Homo sapiens: one gene and its partners. The protein of the gene in region 3 interacts with the protein of the main gene of each other region in a biochemical or structural test. Each region holds a gene or a part of one and is shown on either strand. Other genes may lie near its edges.

Evidence for each region.
Region 1: the proteins of SMAD4 (region 3) and TFE3 form a complex in vitro, tested with the Homo sapiens proteins (2 studies listed by BioGRID).
Region 2: the proteins of SMAD4 (region 3) and DCP1A form a complex in vitro, tested with the Homo sapiens proteins (one study listed by BioGRID).
Region 4: the proteins of SMAD4 (region 3) and ZMIZ1 form a complex in vitro, tested with the Homo sapiens proteins (one study listed by BioGRID).

The regions. Positions count from the first base shown.
Region 1 is NC_000023.11:49,028,203-49,033,374, forward strand, and holds the end of TFE3 (transcription factor E3), read right to left. Parts: intron 4,980-5,172; coding exon of another isoform or gene 4,934-4,979; intron 3,343-4,933; coding exon 3,195-3,342; intron 2,400-3,194; coding exon 1,956-2,399; 3' UTR 524-1,955; downstream 1-523. UniProt on the Homo sapiens protein: Transcription factor that acts as a master regulator of lysosomal biogenesis and immune response.
Region 2 is NC_000003.12:53,337,535-53,344,574, forward strand, and holds part of DCP1A (mRNA-decapping enzyme 1A), read right to left. Parts: intron 4,738-7,040; coding exon 4,610-4,737; intron 612-4,609; coding exon of another isoform or gene 557-611; intron 1-556. UniProt on the Homo sapiens protein: Necessary for the degradation of mRNAs, both in normal mRNA turnover and in nonsense-mediated mRNA decay. Removes the 7-methyl guanine cap structure from mRNA molecules, yielding a 5'-phosphorylated mRNA fragment and 7m-GDP.
Region 3 is NC_000018.10:51,082,209-51,085,578, forward strand, and holds the end of SMAD4 (mothers against decapentaplegic homolog 4), read left to right. Parts: 3' UTR 1-2,834; downstream 2,835-3,370. UniProt on the Homo sapiens protein: In muscle physiology, plays a central role in the balance between atrophy and hypertrophy. When recruited by MSTN, promotes atrophy response via phosphorylated SMAD2/4.
Region 4 is NC_000010.11:79,064,682-79,071,980, reverse strand, and holds the start of ZMIZ1 (zinc finger MIZ domain-containing protein 1), read right to left. Parts: upstream 3,016-7,299; 5' UTR 2,711-3,015; intron 1-2,710. UniProt on the Homo sapiens protein: Acts as a transcriptional coactivator. Increases ligand-dependent transcriptional activity of AR and promotes AR sumoylation. The stimulation of AR activity is dependent upon sumoylation.

The DNA of each region.
Region 1 (5,172 bases), on a different chromosome or scaffold from region 3:
CTGCCTTTCAGATATTTGTCTTTGTCCTTTCCACCATCTTAAATACCTCTGTTGTCTGCCAGGAAATATCCTCATAGACTTCTTTATCAGTTTCAAAAGTGGATTTGCAAGAAAAGCTTCTTTCCCCCTCTGCCCTCAGTGGCATTTTTCAATCGAGCCCTCACTCACCTGACTTTACTGTTTTACCGCCTCACCCATTTACAGGCTTGCATATCTTCAGAACAGTTCAATTCTATTCCTCAGCTTCTTCAAAGACCAAATGGAAGTAAGAAGCAGCATGTTCTGACTAACATCCCTTTAGAGAAATAAATTAGATGAAACACTTGCAGCAGTTAAAATTGTGCCTGGTGATTGGTCTTTAAAAATACTGTCTTTTGTTTGCATATTGTCTTCCTCCATGCCCTCTTCCTTTCTAAATTCTTTTATCCATCCTTCTGGAATCTGTTTCTCCCAAGGACTTTTATCCCTCTTGGCCTGCATGGGCTATGTTCACTGCACAGTGTAAAACAAGGACAGGAGACTCTTTGCCAAAGTTAAAAGCGCATCAAACACGCCTAGCTTTTATTATTTTAATCACAAACCTATAGACCCCTCAGTATACCCTCCATGGGGCCTGGCCCCAGCAATCCAAAGCTGACAACCTTGGGTGTAGGTATGAGGGGTGGGAATGGAGGGGGGAGTGTCTCTTGATAACTCTGAAATGGGGTGATTCCTCCAAATGAAGAACTGGGTGGGGAACAGAGGTTGGGGTGGCCTAGATTCTCAGTATGCGGAGCAATAAAAAAATCAGATAAACAAATGAGGGGGTACAATATGCTTTTACAACCCTCCTCCAAGCTTCTGCCTTGCTGGGGGAAGGCTTCCAGTTTTTCCTGGGCTGGGGAGGTCCCAGGATAGCCCCTTCCTTCATCCTCTTGCCCTACATGTTGAAAAAGAATACTGAGGTACTGGTTCTGGTAACCTGAACTCAGTCCCCCACTAATACCCATCACCTTCCCAAACTGCCCCTCAAGGAAGAAGGCAGGACTCTGCCCAAGGGTGGGGGCCTCTCACTCCAGATATAGGTCTGGAAAATTCATCCATGAAATTTCATAATCTGTCCCCTTCCCCAAGAGCAAGGTTGGCTCAGAGCCCTCCTAGGTTAGGTCAGGTTGGTCCCAGGTTAAGGCAGGGGAGCTTAAGTACCACTCCTCCCTGCAGTGTGGAATGCTTAGATGGGATGTTGCTGAGGGACAAGGGTGGGGCTGTGATCTCCACAAGCACTAGCGGTGGCCTGGTCCTACTGATTCTTTCACACCTGAAATACCTGTGCTGGGCTGTTCCTATAGGGAAGGGGTGGGGCCTGGCTCCTCCATTCCTAGAAGGCCAGGAGAGTTCCCAGGGGAAGGGGCTGGGTCTCATCCTCACTTCTGTTCCTTGCCTGGGCAGAGCAGGGCAGGGTTCATGGGGAAGGGGCAGAGCTTAAACCCCCAGGGCTGGGACCTCCATTACTTGACTCCTCTTCTGTGCCAGGACGGACTAGACTGGTGGTTCCAAGACAAAGGATGGAGCAACATCCTGACATCTCCCTTTCCCAGGAGACCTGGCTAGGACAGTCCCTAGGGGACAGGGTCGAGACCTCATCCTGTCTCCTTCCCTCACCTGGGCAAGGATGAGTCCCACAGGGGCAGGGGTGAGGCTGTGATCCCCAGGGGGCAGGCCCTGATCTCATGTCCTTCTCCAGCCTTCTCCTTCTGAAATACCTGCACTGGGCGGTTCCTTTGGGGAAGGTGCAGGGCCTCATCTGACTCCTCCTCCTTGCCTGATTACAGGGGTGGGGCCTGATCACATCTCCTCTTCCCCCAGGATACCTGGGCAGGGCAGTCTCATGGGAGGGTGGGGGAAAAGGCGGGGCCTCATCCTGACTGGTCCTCCTTTCCTGGGTGGGAAAGTCCCAGGGGAGGGGTGAGGCCTGATCAGGACTCCTCTTCCATGCTGAAGCTGCTGCGGCGGCTGCTGGCCTTGGAGACAGCAGGGGACACTGAAGAGAGCAGGGGATCGGAGGCAGCCCGCAGTGGGGACAGGGCACCCCCCGACAGTCCTCCCACCACCCCCTCCTCCTCCTCCATCAGAATGTCCTCCAGCCCCAGGTGGAAGGGGTCTCCCAGGTCCCCCAGGTGGTCGCTGGGAAAGTGCAGGTCCAGAAGGGCATCTGAGGGCGGTGCAGGGGGCTGCTGATGGGGAGCATTCTGGGCAGGTCCCCCCCCTACATGGAACGTTGCTGCGCCTGGCCTGCCCTCCTCCTCAATGTCCAGCTGCTCTGGCTTGAGGCTGTCAGAAGCCGAAGTCGTGGCCAAGGAAAGCAGCCCTGGAGTGGGAGGTACTGGCAGGCCATGGATCTGGGCCTGCAGTTCTAGTTCCTGTAAAAAATAGGGGTTGGGTGCAGGATAAGTAGGGTTCAGAGTCCCTCAGAGGCAGAGGAGTATAAAGGTTGAAAAGGGTAGGTTCCCTGGGTTGGAATTCAGCTTCTGCTACTCACTAGTTCCAAAACTTTAGGCAAGGTGCTTAACATCTCTGAAGCTTCAGAGTCGCAAACTGTAAAGTGGGTATATAATAATGGCCCCTAGGCTGGGCGCGGTGGCTCACGCCTGTAATCACTTTGGGAGGCCGAGGCAGGTGGATCACCTGAGGTCAGGAGTTCGAGACCAGCTTGACCAACATGGAGAAACCCCATCTCTACTAAAAATACAAAAATTAGCTGGGTGTGGTGGTGCATGCCTATAATCCTAGCTACTCAGGAGGCTGAGACAGGAGAATTGCTTGAACCCGGGAGGCGGAGGTTGCGGTGAGCCGAGATTGCGCCATTGCACTCCAGCCTGGGCAACGAGCGAAACTCCATCTCAAAAATAAATAAATAAATAAATAAAATAATGGCCCCTATCTCATAGAATTCTGAGGATTGAATAAGTTAGTGGATATAAAGCTCTTGTCACAGTACAGAGCACAAGATAAATGCTATGTACATTAGCAATATTATTATCCTTGTTAATATTATGATTATTATTTATCATTATCACTATCATCATCGTGTGATCTGGGAAGCCCAGGGATCCCCCAAGTATGCCAGGAAGGGAAACCCTGGCCTGCTCTCTCTCTGCCTCCACCTGCAGGAAGCTCTCCCCCTCTTCCCCCACCACCATCTCCTCTTTTCAAACCTGAATTCGGAGCTGCAGGCTGCGGTTGGCCTGCTCCAGGGATCGCTGCCGGCTCTCCAGGTCTTTGGAGCGCTGCTGCTCCTTCTGCAGCTTGCGGATATAATCCACAGAGGCCTTCAGGATGGTGCCCTTGTTCCAGCGCATCTCCCTGTGGGGCCCAAGTGGGAGGCAAGCAGGAAATGCCACATGAGGAGTTTCTCAGGAGCTGAGGCGGGGATTGCACCAGGTGGGAGCCTCCCACCACATGCTTAGAACTTGAGGCTGGGGTCTTTCAAAGGTATGGAGTATCCAGAGGAAAACTTCCCGCCTGGAATCTTACAATGGTGCCCCATCACACTCCAAACCCTGGAAGCCGTCTCTGACCTGACCCCTTAGGATTCCTCTCTTCCCTATGTCCCTCCGATTGATCTCACTACAGCCACATTGGTCTCTCAGTGCTCCTAGAATATGGAAAACCACTCCCATCTCAGGGCATCAATCCCAGCCGTGCCCTCTGCCTTGAATACTCTTACCCCCAGACACCCATGCGGCTCCCCGCCTTGCCTCCTTAGGCTCTTTATTCAAACGTTTCCTTGTCAGTTGGGGCCTGCCCTGTCCTCACCTTCCTTATCCCAAACTAACCCTCCCCAACATTCTCCCATTTTCCTTCCAGTCTTTATTCTTCTCATAACACTCATCATAATGGATCTCATGGATGTTTACTTATTTACTATTTGTCTGCCCCCACTAAAACATCAGTTTCATGAGGTCTGTTTTGTTCCCTCTGGTATCTTTAGGGCCTAATATGGTACCTGGCACAAACCAGAGGTTCAAAAAATAAATCTTTCTCTTTTCCTTTTTTTTTGCGGGGCGGTGGGGGATGGAGTCTCGCTCTGTCACCCAGGCTGGAGAGCAGTGGCACAATCTTGGCTCACTACAACCTCCACTTCTCAGGTTCAAGCGATTCTCCTGCCTCAGCCTTCTGAGTAGCTGAGATGACAGGCCTACGCCACCACGCCCAGCTAATTTTTTTTGTATTTTTTGTAGAGATGGGGTTTCACCATGTTGGCCAGGCTGGTCTCAAACTCCTGACCTCAGGTGATCCACCCGTCTCGGCCTCCCCAAGTGCTGGGATTACAGGTGCCCACCACCACGCCCCGCTAATTTTTATATTTTTAATAGAAATGGGGTTTCACCATGTTGGCCAGAATGGTCTCAATCTCCTGACCTTGTGATCCACCCGCCTCGGCCTCCCAAAGTGCTGGGATTACAGGCGTGAGCCACTGCACCCGGCCATCTTTTTTTTTTTTTGTTTTTGAGACAAAGTCTTGCTCTGTCACCCAGGCTGGAGTGCAGTGGCACCATATTGGCTCACTGCAACCTCCACCTCCCGGGTTCAAGTGATTCTCCTGCCTCAGCATCCCGAGTAGCGGGGATTACAGGTGCGTGCCACCACGCCCAGCTAAATTTTTTTTATTTTTAGTGGAGACAGGGTTTCACCATGTTGGCCTTCACCTCCTGACCTCGTGATCCGCCTGCCTTGGCCTCCCAAAGTGCCAGGATTACAAGTGTGAGCCACTGCACCTGGCTAATTTTTGTATTTTTTAGTAGAGACGGGGTTTCATCATGTTGGCCAGGCTAGTCTGAAACTCCTGACCTTAGGTGATCGACCCCGCCTTGGCCTCCCAAAGTGCTGGGATTACAGGCATGAGCCACCACACCCGGCCAATAAATAAATCTTGAATAAATAAAGGAAGTACCATTGCACCACTGCACTCCAGCCTGGGTGACAGCGTGAGACTCCATCTCAAAAAAAAGAAAAAAAAAAAGGAAGTACTAAGTGAACAGAAAAGTAGGTGCATATATCCTACGGGGACCAGATGGGGCACACAGACCATAACATTATGTGCCTAAAATTTTAGGTGCTGACATAGTGAGGGTCTGCAACCCTGCTCAGGCTGAGAAAGAACCAGACAGAGGAGAAATGCCTGGGCCGAGA
Region 2 (7,040 bases), on a different chromosome or scaffold from region 3:
GCCAAGGTTATAGTCAGTAAGGCAAAGCCCAGAATAGAATTCTTATCTGCAAACTAAATTCCATGCCAAAAGAATGTTACCATGGCAAAGCCACCCTCAGGGATATATTCTGCAGCTTTTGTATCTAGAAATCATTTGTAAGTTTCAAAAAGGAATGACTAAATAGGACGCATAAAAATCTAAGCCAAAGCTTCCCAAGTAGTTGTTTGATTCAGGTATGGCACAACAAAGAGCATGTTAGCACATGAGCTCATGCTGAGACTTCCACTGTCCAGTATGGCAGCTGCCAGCACATACAGCCATGTAAATTCTAATATATTAAATTAAATAAACTAAAAAGAAGTGTTCTTCATTTGCCCTAGCCACATTGCAGGCTACTATATGGGACAGTGCTGACACGGAACTATCATTTTCCCTAATTGCAAAGTTTTAGTGGATAGCACTACTCTAGAATATGGATTGATGAAGTAATTTTATTGTTACAGTAGAGTGGAAAGAACATTGGCCTTGAAGCCCGAAAGACCTACTCCCAAATTCTCCATCTGTCACTTATTACCTTTGCGAATCTCGAGCAGATTCCTAAACAGCTCTGAGCCTCTTGTTTTCTCAACCTGTAAGTTGAGGATCAGAAATAAGGTGCTAGAAATACCACTGCTACTCAATAACTCCAGAATTTATAACCTCCCCATAATTCATTGCAATCCCACTGGGGTCTTGTGACTGCCAAAAGGCCCTTGCACAGAATAAAAATACACTGTTCCCAAAAGATTCAAGAGGCTGGACATGGTGGCCCATGCTAGCACTTCGGGAGGCTGAGGCGGGAGAATTGCTTGAGCCCAGGAGTTCAAGACCAGCCTGGGCAACACAGTGAGACCTTGTCTTTTGAAAACAACCACCACCACCACCACCACTACCCCACAAAGATTTAAGAGAATCACCAAGCCTAAGCCCTTAGTCAGTGTAAGAATTTTCTCTTTAAGATTTTATCTTTTTCTTGAGGGGTGGGGTGGGTGTAGATGGGCATGTTTTATAAAGAAAAACTCTTGGCTGGGCGCGGTGGCTCACTCCTGTAATCCCAGCACTTTGGAAGGCCAAGGCAGGTGGATCACGAGGTCAGGAGATCGAGACCATCCTAGCTAACACGGTGAAACCCCGTCTCTACTAAAAATAGAAAAAATTAGCCGGGCGTGGTGGTGGGCGCCTGTAGTCCCAGCTACTCGGGAGGCTGAGGCAGGAGAATGGCGTGAACCTGGGAGGCAGAGCTTGCAGTGAGCCAAGATCATGCCACTGCACTCCAGCCTGGGTGACAGAGCAAGGCTCCGTCTCAAAAAAAAAAAAAAAGAAAAACTCTTAAAAATAAATAAAACAAATAACTTAGAACTGAAAAAAAGTTATGGTTCACTGTTCTAGTACATTAACTCCAAAAATTAATTTGAATGAAAGAAGTTGGATATGAAGGTGTCACTTGAGTTAAATGGGTCAGGTGTCTTGATGGTATTTCCCACAAGAGAATGGCAGAAGTGCAGCTATAGAATCAGGTATAATTACCTGTATGCATAATCAGATACTAACTTTTTATTTAAAGAACAAATCCCTAAACAACTTAATAGCTCGCTGACCTGACAAGACTATTTTCCACTTTTAAGACTATGTAGACAAAACACACACTCGAGAGGGCTTAACACTCACAAAATCATTTTCTGTTGTCTTATCACTTCTCCCCAATACAGCTATTCCTTTAAATACTTTCCCTAATGAAATGACCTGGTTAAGTGAGTTTTCTGTTCAACTAAGAAAACTTTTGTTTCAATCAGTTGAAAATTTTCTAAAGTAAAATGCATTAATGCACTTTCTCCCCAAGAATGTTCTAGTTAACATAATAAATACTCCTGATGATTTTAGGTCTCACTATAACAATTTAACCTATGATACTACAGTGGAGTTAAAGTTATAAAATATTGACATTTTAATGCCGACCCCAGGTTATTCTCTGGATATCTGCTTGATTTTCAGAAAATAAAACCTAGTATTAGCTTGTTTTCTTATAATTTGCCTTCATTTCTTCCACACACGAACTATAAAAATATTTCCAGACAACTGAAGCTCTAATTAGTTAGCTTCTGGTTACTCATGGTTCAATTACATTTGTGTTATGTCACACTTTCAATTTCACAGGACTTTTGCCTTGTGAAAAAAATATAATACAATTCATCTCAGGTTTATGCTAAATGGTAACTGGGTCCGGATAACTTTCCCTACTGACTACTTTAATAATCAAACCACTTAGGAGTGATGGCTAGATTAAGTTTCCAGGCAGTAAAGAACAGAATTAAGCCTATTTCACTTAAAAAAAAATTGGATCCATATTCATTTGCAGAATTTCTCCCACCCTCTTTTCATTTTTTGAGTCAGGGTCTCGCTTGTTGCCCAGGCTGGAGTGCAGTGGCGCAATCATGGCTCACTGCAGCCTGGACAGCCTCCTGGGTTCAAGCGACTTTCCCACCTCAGCCTCCTGGGTAGCTGGGACTACAAGTGTGTGACACCACACCTGGCTAATTTTTCTATTTTTTTGTGGAGTGGGGGTTTTGACATGTTGCCCAGGCTGGTCTCAAACTCCTGGGCTCAAGCAATCTGCTTGCCTCGGTCTCCCAAAATCGTGGGATTGCAGGTGTTGAGCCACTTTGCCCAGCCGAATTTTCCCTTTAATGGAATATTCAGTACAAAGAAAAGAGCAATCTGAAATAATTACATTGTTAACATTAGTTTAAATAAATCCATCTGAACTTACAGCTATTACAAAGCATGTCTAATATGTCCACAGAATTTAAAATCTGAGAGGTAATTACCTGGACAAATAGTTTACTGAGAAGTCAAAAGATAGAACCTATTTCACTTATACTTCAAAGTGTGCTACGGAAAAGAACTTGGGGGTTTCTAGCTTTAAAATAGGCCTTGTTACTTCTCATTCAGGGAATTAAGAGGTGTATAATTTTTAGTAACTTTTTCTATTTTATACTGAAGACATCCCCCAAGACCAATTACCCCCCCGCCAAGTGAAATTCAAACACATTAACTTTTACTTTTTAAGTTAGAAGCAACATTTCTCCAACTATATCCTTAGATGCCAATTAGAGCACAATCATTGTTACCATAACCAGTTTTCATATCCCTATAGTCAATGTCCAACAAACTGTCCTCAAACACCCATACCTTCAATATCCATACTAATACACTGGAATCAAGTATATTTTTTAGTACTGTAGTTTCTTGGAAGGGCCACTCTAGCTTTGCTGACTACATCCAATCGTTATTAGAGATTGTAAAAATGCCTGAAAGAACCCTGGACTAAAAAGCAGAAGAATAGTCATAATCCTAACTCTCCAACAGGGTAATAGTTATGCATCTCTGAGTCTCAGTTGACTTAACTGCCTGCTTACACCACATAGGTAACTGTATCGTTAACATTAAAGCACCACAGCTCTTGGCTCAGTGCTGGTAACCAGTAGACACTCAATTAAATAAACAGATAGAAAAACCTTACTTAGAAACATATTCAGACAAAATAAAGTAGAAAAAGTAATAAATATCTTAAAAAAAAAAACCCATCACCACTATTCTGGGCAAAAATAATATTTTCTGGCCGGGCGTGGTGGCTCATGCCTATAATCCCAGCATTTTGGGAGGCCGAGGCAGGCAGATCACAAGGTCAGGAGATCAAGACCATCCTGGCTAACACGGTGAAACCCCTTCTCTACCAAAAATACAAAAAAATTAGCCAGGCGTGGTGGCGGGTGCCTGTAGTCCCAGCTACTTGGGAGGCCGAGCCAGGAGAAGGGCATGAATCCGGGAGGCAGAGCTTGCATGAGCCTAGATCACACCACTGCACTCCAGCCTGGGCAACAGAGCAAGACTCCGTCTCAAAAAAAAGAAAATAATAATAGTAATAATAATACTTTCTTTGTGGAAAGAATTATCTGTATCTGTTCCCATCCTGTGTGTCCCAAACTAAGTTCTGTTGCTTAGGGACATGGGCAGCTGATAGTCCACAGCTGCAAAAAAACAAAGGCATAAACCTTATTTTAATAAACCGACAACAGAAATGTAGTGCTATTAAATGAAATAGTAAACTAAATTATATACAAAAGAATGTTTCCAGTTTCAGAGCCCAGTTTATTTATTTATTTTTTTGAGACACAGTCTCATTCTGTTGCCCAGGCTGGAGTACAGTGGCGCGATCTCAGCTCACTGCAACCTCCACCTCCCAGGTTCAAGTGATTACAGGCGCCTGCCACCAAGCCCGGCTAATTTTTTTCTGTATTTTTAGTAGATACGGGGTTTCACCATGTTGGCCTGGCTGGTCTCGAACTCCTGACCTCAAGTGATCTGCCCTCCTCGGCCTCCCAAAGTGCTGGGATTACAGGCATGAGCCACCACCTCTGGCCTCAGAGCCCAGTTTAAAAGGTTTGATCTTTCCAACAGACTCATTTATAATCATTAAGTAGAGACCATATTTTGTTTTGTAATTTGAAACTTCCTAAATAATGGATTGATAGAAACTAAAGTCACTCAATTTTAAATGTAATAACTATAATAAAACAGATATACTCACAGCTTGCATTTCTATACAGAAGAAATGGTTCATGGAGCTGAAATTCCAAATCTTTATTCACTGGTTCAACTAGATTGTGCATATTTAGTCGATTCACAATGGTAAAACCATGGTAAGGGGAAGCTGACCTTAGATTTAATAGAAGAAAAAAAAATATGTAGTTACCATTTAATCTGTAGAAATGTTATCTACTATGTACTTTATTTTCATTTCAAAAAAGAATGCATTAGAACATTATACAATATTATCAGCACTTACATCTGTAAACAAAAAATTTAAGTCAGATCATACTCCTCCTCTGACGAGAAGTCTCCAAAGACAGTCTCTCAGAGTAAAGGCCAAAGTCCTTACTGAGGCCACCAAGGCCCCACCTGATATACTCCCCACTCTGACTTCATTTCCTATGGCTCTTCTCCAGCTCCTACTCTCCAGCCACACCGGGCTCCTTGCCACTCTCTCTGCGTGTGTGCTTCTACCTAAAAACCTCTTCCTGGATTACTGCCCCAGAAGCTGCACAGCTATCTCATCTCCTCCAAGCCTTTGTTCAGATGTCACCTTTTTCATGAGGCCTACTTGAACTATCCTTTTTAATGCTCCCAAGCTCAATATCTCTAACCTTCCTCTTTTATCCATACCACTTATTTTTAGTATTTATTGTCCTCCCCCCACTAGGATGTAAGCCCCATGCAAATGGAGCTTTTGTCTTACTTTTTTCATACATATATCCCAAGATAGACACACAGTTGCTGAATGAAATATCATTCAATTGGATTGGCTATAATGGCTGCCCATCATTACAATAATGTTTTTCTTGCAACAAATAGATATTTACATAGCGCTCCTGAGTTAGACGGAAAATGCCTTGAATCCTACAATAGGAAACATCCTTGGTTCCCATATCAGAGGGATTCGGTACATGATCCTTTACTCTTCACATGTACCTAACACTTCACCGTTTTTCATTTGTTTCTCTACGATATACCCGGGGTGTTAACAGAACACTATTCTATAGATTAGGAGACAAGCTTTGAATGATAAGGCCTGTGCCTGAGGTCACACAAATAATGAGTTACAAATAATATAACTAGGATTCAGTTTCAGGTTTTTTGACTCCAAATCCAAGCTTCTACTATATGAAGTAATAGCTGCAAAGTGACAGTCTGACATCCTGGTATACCTTTATCCAAGGTACGCAAAATAGTCTCACATTTTCCAAACACAGTTTCTTGCGTCTCCTTTAATTAGAATCAGTACCATATAAGCCTCCGTGAATTGTATTAAATCCAGCCACCCACTACACTAAATCTCCTACTTTCTACAATCAGTGCCTCTGTATGATAACAATAAAGCCAGTAAAGTACTTTTACCAAATATCATAGAAACTAAGGTTCTAATAACAGAGTTTCTAGAGATTTATATTGCTAATGAAGAGTAATGAAGGGAGTGAGGGTAAAGATCCTTTCCTATTAATTTATTTATTTTTTATGAGAGGGAGTCTCGCTCTGTCACCCAGGCTGGAGTGCAGTGGCACGACCTCGGCTCACTGCAAGCTCCGCCTCCTGGGTTCACGATATTCTCCTGCCTCAGCCTCTCAAGTAGCTGGGACTACAGGTGCCTGCCACCATGCCCAGCTAATTTTTTGTATTTTTAGTAGAGACAGGGTTTCACCGTGTTAGCCAGGATGGTCTTGATCTCCTGACCTCGTGATCCGCCCACCTCGGCCTCCCAAAGTGCTGGGATTACAGGCGTGAGCCACTGCACCCGGCCGATCCCTTCCTTTTTAAAAGCAGAAAGATGAATAGCAGGGAACAAAGAAAGTGTCTAAGAAAAAAGAGCTTGGTGTACAAATATCAAAGAATTACACTTAAAAGAAGAAAAAAATGAGTGCATTTAGACGAGATCTCAAAGCTTTGTATCAAAATTTAGAAGAGTATTTGACAAATTCTTTTAAATTGGCATCAATGGAGAAAGGCAATCCTTATGAAGCAACTCAATACAAAAAAAAAAGGGAAAAGACCAGATATCAGTAATAACTCCTGCTGACTCCCTAAGCTTTAGAAAACAAGGGAAGGAACCTGCCCTTGTAAGAGTTAAGACCTTAGAGGAATCCAGGAAAACAAGTACCCCATGACTATCATATACTGTCAGTTGTCTTTAGGCCCCAAAAGCTGCCTAACAAAAAAGTTGCAATTTGCAAACCAATCTTAAAGATAATGAATTTTTGAATAAGTCAAAAATAAAAAATACGCCATCATGAATAATCCAAGCTTTCTAAAGAACTCTCAAATAAGACACTGTACATAATCCAGAACTTCTGTGGGTTGGGAAAGAGGACAGAACCAGTCATAAAAGACAACCACTCATGTAGTAATGAAAGAACAGAGGGATCGACCTCTCAATAACATTATTTTACAGAGCCAGTCTATGTATT
Region 3 (3,370 bases):
AAGTAATGCATTTTTTTTTCCCGTAAAGGCAGAATCCATCTTGTTGCAGATAGCTATCTAAATAATCTCATATCCTCTTTTGCAAAGACTACAGAGAATAGGCTATGACAATCTTGTTCAAGCCTTTCCATTTTTTTCCCTGATAACTAAGTAATTTCTTTGAACATACCAAGAAGTATGTAAAAAGTCCATGGCCTTATTCATCCACAAAGTGGCATCCTAGGCCCAGCCTTATCCCTAGCAGTTGTCCCAGTGCTGCTAGGTTGCTTATCTTGTTTATCTGGAATCACTGTGGAGTGAAATTTTCCACATCATCCAGAATTGCCTTATTTAAGAAGTAAAACGTTTTAATTTTTAGCCTTTTTTTGGTGGAGTTATTTAATATGTATATCAGAGGATATACTAGATGGTAACATTTCTTTCTGTGCTTGGCTATCTTTGTGGACTTCAGGGGCTTCTAAAACAGACAGGACTGTGTTGCCTTTACTAAATGGTCTGAGACAGCTATGGTTTTGAATTTTTAGTTTTTTTTTTTTAACCCACTTCCCCTCCTGGTCTCTTCCCTCTCTGATAATTACCATTCATATGTGAGTGTTAGTGTGCCTCCTTTTAGCATTTTCTTCTTCTCTTTCTGATTCTTCATTTCTGACTGCCTAGGCAAGGAAACCAGATAACCAAACTTACTAGAACGTTCTTTAAAACACAAGTACAAACTCTGGGACAGGACCCAAGACACTTTCCTGTGAAGTGCTGAAAAAGACCTCATTGTATTGGCATTTGATATCAGTTTGATGTAGCTTAGAGTGCTTCCTGATTCTTGCTGAGTTTCAGGTAGTTGAGATAGAGAGAAGTGAGTCATATTCATATTTTCCCCCTTAGAATAATATTTTGAAAGGTTTCATTGCTTCCACTTGAATGCTGCTCTTACAAAAACTGGGGTTACAAGGGTTACTAAATTAGCATCAGTAGCCAGAGGCAATACCGTTGTCTGGAGGACACCAGCAAACAACACACAACAAAGCAAAACAAACCTTGGGAAACTAAGGCCATTTGTTTTGTTTTGGTGTCCCCTTTGAAGCCCTGCCTTCTGGCCTTACTCCTGTACAGATATTTTTGACCTATAGGTGCCTTTATGAGAATTGAGGGTCTGACATCCTGCCCCAAGGAGTAGCTAAAGTAATTGCTAGTGTTTTCAGGGATTTTAACATCAGACTGGAATGAATGAATGAAACTTTTTGTCCTTTTTTTTTCTGTTTTTTTTTTTCTAATGTAGTAAGGACTAAGGAAAACCTTTGGTGAAGACAATCATTTCTCTCTGTTGATGTGGATACTTTTCACACCGTTTATTTAAATGCTTTCTCAATAGGTCCAGAGCCAGTGTTCTTGTTCAACCTGAAAGTAATGGCTCTGGGTTGGGCCAGACAGTTGCACTCTCTAGTTTGCCCTCTGCCACAAATTTGATGTGTGACCTTTGGGCAAGTCATTTATCTTCTCTGGGCCTTAGTTGCCTCATCTGTAAAATGAGGGAGTTGGAGTAGATTAATTATTCCAGCTCTGAAATTCTAAGTGACCTTGGCTACCTTGCAGCAGTTTTGGATTTCTTCCTTATCTTTGTTCTGCTGTTTGAGGGGGCTTTTTACTTATTTCCATGTTATTCAAAGGAGACTAGGCTTGATATTTTATTACTGTTCTTTTATGGACAAAAGGTTACATAGTATGCCCTTAAGACTTAATTTTAACCAAAGGCCTAGCACCACCTTAGGGGCTGCAATAAACACTTAACGCGCGTGCGCACGCGCGCGCGCACACACACACACACACACACACACACACACAGGTCAGAGTTTAAGGCTTTCGAGTCATGACATTCTAGCTTTTGAATTGCGTGCACACACACACGCACGCACACACTCTGGTCAGAGTTTATTAAGGCTTTCGAGTCATGACATTATAGCTTTTGAGTTGGTGTGTGTGACACCACCCTCCTAAGTGGTGTGTGCTTGTAATTTTTTTTTTCAGTGAAAATGGATTGAAAACCTGTTGTTAATGCTTAGTGATATTATGCTCAAAACAAGGAAATTCCCTTGAACCGTGTCAATTAAACTGGTTTATATGACTCAAGAAAACAATACCAGTAGATGATTATTAACTTTATTCTTGGCTCTTTTTAGGTCCATTTTGATTAAGTGACTTTTGGCTGGATCATTCAGAGCTCTCTTCTAGCCTACCCTTGGATGAGTACAATTAATGAAATTCATATTTTCAAGGACCTGGGAGCCTTCCTTGGGGCTGGGTTGAGGGTGGGGGGTTGGGGAGTCCTGGTAGAGGCCAGCTTTGTGGTAGCTGGAGAGGAAGGGATGAAACCAGCTGCTGTTGCAAAGGCTGCTTGTCATTGATAGAAGGACTCACGGGCTTGGATTGATTAAGACTAAACATGGAGTTGGCAAACTTTCTTCAAGTATTGAGTTCTGTTCAATGCATTGGACATGTGATTTAAGGGAAAAGTGTGAATGCTTATAGATGATGAAAACCTGGTGGGCTGCAGAGCCCAGTTTAGAAGAAGTGAGTTGGGGGTTGGGGACAGATTTGGTGGTGGTATTTCCCAACTGTTTCCTCCCCTAAATTCAGAGGAATGCAGCTATGCCAGAAGCCAGAGAAGAGCCACTCGTAGCTTCTGCTTTGGGGACAACTGGTCAGTTGAAAGTCCCAGGAGTTCCTTTGTGGCTTTCTGTATACTTTTGCCTGGTTAAAGTCTGTGGCTAAAAAATAGTCGAACCTTTCTTGAGAACTCTGTAACAAAGTATGTTTTTGATTAAAAGAGAAAGCCAACTAAATCATTATGTGCTCATTCTTTTTCTTAAGCTTGTGGATGTCTTGGATCTGGAAAGGGTTTCTGATCACTTAGAGAATTTTCAAACTTTAGGTCAACATTTTCCTTTATTGCCTTGTGGCCACTGAAATGGGAAATGTGACATTTAAAATATGACCCTGGAATAACAGTCCCCATTCTTCTCTCATTTTTAAAAGGAGAAGGTGAAGTGATGGTGATCAGAGAGATGGGTGCTAGGGAATTATAAGAACCAGGATGCTTAAAGGAGAGGTAAAATTGGAAATTGGAGACCCTTTCATTGCCCAGCTAAGGGATAAGGAAAGCTGTTTCTCTCCCATCTGCCTTCTCTGTGAAATAGGGGTCAATGGGAGGGGAGTGGTGGTCAGGTAAGTAGATTCCGTGGCAATGGCTTGTATATAACAAGACCACATCAGCATTTTATTTCTAAGCTTGCTGACATGAGTTTCAGAGAGTTTATCGGGCTGAGAGATTTCTTCTCACCTGTTTGCTAACCTGAAATTTATAGTATTTTAGGCTAGA
Region 4 (7,299 bases), on a different chromosome or scaffold from region 3:
CCCAGCCCCCACCCCCAGTCACTGCCACCAACTCTCAGAAGTCTAAACTTTTGAGATTTACATGTGAAAACAGCGTTTCAAAACCTCGTGATTTGGGACAAGGAGACGCTTCTGTCCTTTGGGGGAAAACAAAACCCAACCGAAAATCATAAAGCTCAGAAGAAAACACCATCTCCCTCCAAATGCATTCCCTGGGCCCCCAACTCACACGTGCTCTGTAGCAGATAGGGCTTTCAATGTGTCTTTTGTTTGATGCTGATGTTTCAACATCCTCGACTTGAAGAGGGAAAGGTCAGCCCAAGGCTTGGGGTATTCACAAACCCACCCGGCCCCTGCACTGGGGCCAGGAGCCAGCAAGTGAGGGGCCAGGAATTTCCCCCACTCTGGACCCCCTCACAAAGCAGCCGGGGCTGAGAAGGCTAAGAAAGAGCTTGCTCTCTCATCTCAACTTCCCCGATAGCTCAACAGCAGCTTCACACTCCCGGGACCGTACAAGCGCCAGCGAACGCAGGCTGGAATTCACCAGCGCCAAGCTGCCCGGCTCTCCAGCCCCGGCGCCTGCCTCTTTATCTGTACCTTCAAAAACAGTAATAAGCAAACCCAGGCACCTCTGGGAACAGCCTCTGGCCTCCTGCCCTGCCCTGTGTAACCAGCCTGTCCTCACACCCACCAGGGAGGAGGAGTCGGCACTGGTTAACCCTCTGGTCTACCAGGCCCGGTTCCCAGGTTGCAGCAGGGAGACAAACTGTTGCTCAAGAAAATCCTTCAGAAAACCCTTGGCACCAGGAGGCAGCTCGGAGCGGCTCTGCACCCGGCGCGGAGCCAGGGGCTTCCACAGGCGGCCGCCCACTGCCCTTTTAAATCTTTGGGGCTGGGCCCTACTCTCCCATGCCCTGGGCTGTCCACCCAGAGGGCTCCAAATGTCCGTGGCAGAGCAGAGAGGAGGGAAAGGCTGGCCGAGCCGTGCCCTCACCCCGCCAGCCCAGCCGCCAGCTTCTTGGAGGACCTCTGAGAGAACATTTGTTTGGGCTGCCAAGTTAAATCTTCCTCCCTCATGTCAGGGCATTGGAAAAGCAGTCAGGGGAGAGGAGAAGGGGGAGAGCGCGCGGGGGAAGGAGCAGCGGGAGGGAGGGAGGGAGGGAGGCAGGCGGGCAGGCTCAAAGCCCCAGTTACTCGGGCACTGCCTACCCAGGAAGCTGACGGCTCCCGGGCAGGCGCAGCCGGGGCTCCGGGCACCGAAGCAGGGACCCGGCCGTCAGGCCTCCCCGGTCAGGCAAGGGTACCAAGCACCCTTGGCCCACCTGGGAGCGGCCCTCGCTCTGTGACCTGCTGGAGGGACGAGGTGGGAAGGGAAGGCAGAGAAGGAAAAAGTTTGCTGCAGGTAGAGGGGTAGGGCTGGGCGGCAGTGCCGACCGGCTGTCCCCGGGGAGGGGTGGGGGGCCCGGACCGGCTGCCCTGGCGCGCTCCCGTCCGCCCGCCCTCCCGCCCGGGTTGTTTACATTCCTGGAGTGTCTTTTAAACCCGGGGCTGAGGCCGGCTCCCGGCCTTCTCCGGCGGCTCCGGGGCAGTCTCCCGTGAAAATCTGCTGGCGCACAATGGCCGGGAAGGCGGCCGCCCCTCGCCCGCGCCCCCACCGCTCCAGGGCGGGGAGCCTGCCCTCCGCACCGCGCCCTATCCCCGCCCGGCCGGCTTCCTGGACAGATGTCCCCAGCGAGGGGGCGACGCGCGCCCGCTGCCCGCGCCCTAGACGCCGAGGCCGCGCTCCCCACTGTTTTTTCCCCAGCCCAGACGCCAGGAATGTGAAGCAAGCTTCCAGAACCCGCCTCCCCCCCCCGACCCCGGCTCCAGCCCCGGCCCCCCAACCTCCGCCCCGGCTGGCCTCCCACTCCCCCGGGGCCACCGCCGCCGGAGACGGAGAGGAAGAAAGAACACGGGGAAATTACTTTCGTATTTGCAACGCGCGCGCGCACACACACGCACATCTTCCCCCTGGGCTCCCCTCCTGGCCGGGGCAGCCCCGTCCAGGCACTGGCCTGAGCGCCCCTCTGGCTTGCGAAGCCCTGGGAGAAAACCCTGCACACACACCTCCGCGTTTCTCGTTTGTACCGCGCGCCAGCTTTCCCCGGGCAATTCCCACACAAACAACTTAACCGCGCCCCCACCTCCCATTTACAAAAGTGTATGTTTTCCCTGGAAATTCAGACGCACAAGTTAACACCACCACCCCTTGCCATCCTGAAATCCAGCGCTTTCCCCAGCGGTTCCTGTACACACACAGGCGCACAACTTCGCATCTCCCCAGAGGAGGCGAAGGAGACCGAGGCGGTCCTTCCCTCCCTCCTCCGATTCCCGGTCCTGCCCGGCCCCCGGGTGTAGGGAGCGAGGGCTGGAGGCGCGCCGGCAGGAGGCGGGCACCGGGTCCGCGCGCGCACGACCACACTTACGCCCCGCACACCCTGACAAACCCGGCCCCCACGCGCAGCCCAAGCCGGCTCCGCGCAGCCGGGAGCTCGCCGGCCGCCGGGCCTCGGCCCCCGGCCGCCAAGGAGAGCGGAGCGGAGCCCGCGCCGCCGGCCGGTCGCCCCGCTCCGGGGGACACTTTAAGGGAAAAACCCCAGCACCCAATCCCCACGCTTGCACCCCGAGAGTCCCCGGGGAGCGGGAGGTAGCCCCGGAGCCAGCGGGCGCCTGGCTCTGGCCCCAAACTTACCGGGCGCTGCGAGCGCCGCTGCCGCCGCTGGAGGACGCGCCGCCGCCACCGCCGGGTAGGGCAGGCTCGGGCCGGGAGGAGCGCAGCGAGGGCGCCGAGATCCGCTCGGCTCCGGCTCCTGCTCCGCGCCGGCTGGGGCTGGGGTCACCGCGCTGCGCCGGCGTTGCTCGCTCGCTCGGCCGCCCGATCGCTGCTCGCCCGCCTGCCGCCCGGCCGCCCGCTCTCCCCGGCGCCCGCCGCCGCCGCTCGCTTTTTTAATGTCCACAGACAGTGAAAAGGAACTCGGCGTTAGGGGGTGAGTAAGTGAATCAACTCGCCCGGAGCCGAGCAAGTTGAAGTGTCAGATTACATTGGCTATTCTATTTCCAAAGGGCCCCGCGCCGCCGGCCGCCCGCAAAAGCCGGTGCGGAGTCAGGCCGGAGTGGAGCGCCGCGCCGCGCCGCCGCCGCTGCCGGCGCTCGGCTTGGCTCGCGCTCTGCGCTCTCTTTCCCCTTTCCTTTTCGCCTCTCCTCGTTCTCTCCCTCGCCTTTCCTTTCCTTTCTCTTCCTCTCTTCCTCGCTCCTCGGTCTCGGCGCTCTCCCAGCTTTTCTTCTCCTGGCTCCTGGTTCCCCGCTACGCCACCAGTCCACTCACCTCTCTCCTTGCCCTACTCCCTCCGCTACTCCCTGACGCCCCCTGCAGCCCCCAGCCCCCCTGCAGGCCCCAGCCCCAGTAAGTTTGGAGAGGGGAACAAATGCTGAGCCTAGGTAGGGACCACCTTGGGGAGGAAGCCAAAATCACACTGCTCACCCGAGAGCCCCTGCCCCGCGCTGGCACGCCCCCGCCTGGAGTGCACTCGTGGCCCCGGGCGCTGTCAGGTACCCGAATTGGGGTAAGCGAGTTGGTAACTGGACCTCCAAAGCCTTCCCCTGGGGTTGACTTTGGAATTGTTCCTACAGCCCGGGGACTGGTGGTTGGGGTGGGAAGAGGACCACCACCACCAAGGGTGACTTTGAGGGAGACTAGAGCGCGGCCCCCCGACAGCTGTGGGGGAGCGGGGGTGTGGTGGCCACAGTTGATCCGCGGCACCTAGCACAGTCCAGAGACGCGTGGATTCCCCTAGGCCCGGCGCGGAGCGCCCGGGGCGCTGTGCGCGCGGGCTGCGTGGGAGCTGCTAGGCTGGGGCCTGGCCCTCTGCCCCGGACTGGGCACTGCCAGAGATAGCGGAGAGCTAAGGTACTCACGAGGCGCAGTTGGGTGCACCCACTCGCGGGAGTTCCCCTAGCCGACCCACCCCCCCCCCCCGAGAGCATCCAACTACGCGCCCACTTTGGCTCACGTCCACTGCCACTCTCACGGAAACTCCTACAAGAACGGCACACACGTTCGCTCCCTCAGCATTGCAAACACGCTCCCCCCCAAACCACAAACGCGCCCCCACACACTCGCTTACTTTCCCTCACAAAGATGCCCGCTTACACGGCCACAGCAGGCACGCTCAGAGACACGCAGTTACACACACACATCGCTGTACACAACCCCACATACAATCAAAAAACAAAACACGAAACGTTCCCCTGGGCACTAAATCCTCACGTTAACGTACACACACAAACACACGCCCTCCTCTCCCACTTCCTCTTCCATACCCCTTCCTCGAGGCCCCCCACCCCTGATTTTCGGCACCCCCAGTCCCAATCATAATTGGCGCCCGCGCAGCCCTCTTTGGACACACACGCGCCGCCCACGCACGCGCTCCCCTCCCCGGCAGGCGGGGGCGGCTTCGGCCGGGAGCCGGCGGAGCCCGCTTCGGATTCCAGGTGTGGCAGTGACTCCGCGCTCCACGTTTTGCAGGCTGCCACCGTGTCGGAGGCGAGGCGAGGAAGGGAGCTGGAATAACAAAGGCAAGTTGGGGAGAGCGCAAGGGGGCGCAGCCCCGGCCGGGCTGCGGGGGGAGCCTTGCACGGCCGGGGCTTCGGAGGCTGCAGGGTCGGGGGCGCGGGGAGCCGGAGGTGGGGGAGGAAGGGTGGGGGGAGAGGGGCGGGGCTGAGGCGTGACGTCAGAGAACAATGACACCGCCGGGGGGCGGGCACCCGGAGGCGGCCCAGGCGGGGGTCTCCCCCGGGGCCTGGGGCGGGCCGAAGATGTCCAGGCCTGGCCGGAGCCGCCTCCTGATTGACGAGGCCCGCATGGGAGTGCGGACGTGCAGCACAGATTTGCGGGTCTCCTGGGCCTCTTGGGCGGTGATCAGCGCGGACCTTGGGCCAACCGGGGAAGCAGGCCGGAGCACTACCCCCCACCCCCATTTTAGAACATCCTTCTGAGGGCTTCGCTGACCTCGGCTTGAACTCCTTCAGAGCCGGAGAGATCACTCCTTCCACCACCGAGGGAGAGGAGGCAAAATGAATTTGCCAGCTTTGAATTCATTCTCAAGGCTCCGCTAGTCTCACAGCCAGTGAACTCAGTCTGGAATTCCTGAAAGCTCAGAAAACTGCTGCTTAGGTCCACCCGGGCGTGGGGGACGGGGTGTGTGGGGGCGCAGGCGGCGGAGTGGGGGCGTTATTTTATTTTCCCCAGGGGAAATTCTGCCTCCCTATGCCATTGGGTGCAAGAAAAGGCACTCCTTTGGGGCCTCAGTCTTCCTACCTGTCACATGGACATGGACTGTGATGACTGCTGCTCTTCCACCCCCGCCCTCCCTGTAGGTGGCAGCTGAGCATCCCTGGAGAGGGTGGGTGGTATGAAAGCACTTCCAGACCTCTAGGGACACCAGGGAGTCATGGTCCCAGCACATTGCTGTGTGATTGAGCCCCTCCTCAGCCTGTGGGTGGCCTAAGTTCACAGGTAGGTACACCAGGGCCACCTGAGAAACCTCCGAAGGTAGGAATTAAGCTTGCAGAACGGTGGCTGCAGCCACAGCTGTCCCACTCCCAGCAATCCACAGCATTGCAGCAGTGGCAGCAGCCACCCCATACCCAGGTCCAAAATCCCAAAAGAGAGTTTCTGGGTATTTAAGGATTTGGGATGTGATAATCCAGCCCAGCCCACAATTAGACCAGTTCTTGTTGCCTTAATGACCAGCTAGGTCTGGACGCCCAGCCCTCTCAACCTTTCTGTCCAGATTCCTCAATAAGTATCCAGGGCCTGCCCACTTCCAGGAATTGGGGGATGCAGGTGACCTCGGAGGTGACCACTCATGTTCAAAGTCTCCTGTCCAGAAGCTCCACCCCCTACCCCACATCCCAGCCCCCTACTCTCCCACCAGTATTTACATCTGAAACCCAGGAAGTGGCTGCAGAGGGCAGAGGAGCCAAGTAGGCTCAACTTAGTAGCATGGAACCAGGGATCATTTCAACCCTCCCCTTCTGTGCAAGCATGGCAGCAAGTCAGAAAGCCCACCAGGGTCCTGGGTCTTCCCTAGGCTCCAGTCCTTGGGTCTCTGAGGCCCTTGCTCTCTTTGTTCATCTTCCAGGGAGGTAATGGGGTAGATTGGATACCTCTGGGGTCTTGGAAGAAGCTATGACTTATTTACTGTCTACTATGTGGTGAGTACTGTGGTGGGTCCTCCTAGGTATTGAGAATTCAGTTCCCTGATTGAACTGTCACATTGTCTTAAGTTAGGTGCCGCTACCATCCCCCTTTCAGAGGAAACTCAACTGTGAATGACTTGCCCAAGATTGGTCAGGATGGGAACTCGGGCCCCCATGAACAGAGTTTCCTGTTGTCCCCTCAGCCCTGGCTCTGTTCATCCATAGACTGTGTAGCCCCAAGCAAGCTGCTTTCCCCCTCTGAGCCCCTGTAAGGTCCATGGTGCCATCAGGACTCACTGGGAACTGTGTGTCCAACAACCTCACCCCCAAAGTCTCAGCCTCACTGGGCCTGGAGATCTGCTGGTGAGACAAGAGAGGACAGTGCCATCACTTCCTCGTGGCCCAGAGCTGGAAGATGCATCCTGCTCAGCCCCTGCAGGCCCAGAAGTCACCTGGCTCCACTAGGAGGGCATGGGCAGTGTGGGGCCGCCAGGTTGTACCAACCTTCAGAGCACACTCAAGTGCTGTTAATTTCCCTGTCCTGTGGGAGCCACCAGCAGATTGGGGAGAGGACCATTGCTGGGGCCTGGGCCCAGGTTTCAGGAGGCAGAAAATCTGGAGGCCAGCAGGATGGTGGGGGTGGGAGGCTTGAGGTCCCTGAGGGAAGCAAAGGACTTGTGTAGGGTGCGGCGAGTATGGCCTCCTAGGCTGGGCTGGGATGGGGGCGGGTACACAGTGGGGATTCCCACCTGTCCAGGAGCTGCCTTCTCTGTCCCCACTCTCCACCTCTCACTTCTGGAACTTAAGGGAGCCAGGGAACATCTAAAATTGAGACTAGAGAGGTGGGAAGAAAATCTCATTCATTGAGTACTTACTGTATGCCACGCACTTTGGAAACATTCGTTGTATTCTCTCCACAAGCCAGGTGTCATTCCCTGCTAAGGGAAGAGGCTCAGAGAGGTTAAGTGACCTGCTCAAGATCTCATAGCTGGCTGAGCATGGTGGCTCATGCCTGTAATCTGTGCACTTTAGGAGGCCAAGGCAGGGTAGATCACTTGAGCTCAGGAGTTCGAGACCAGC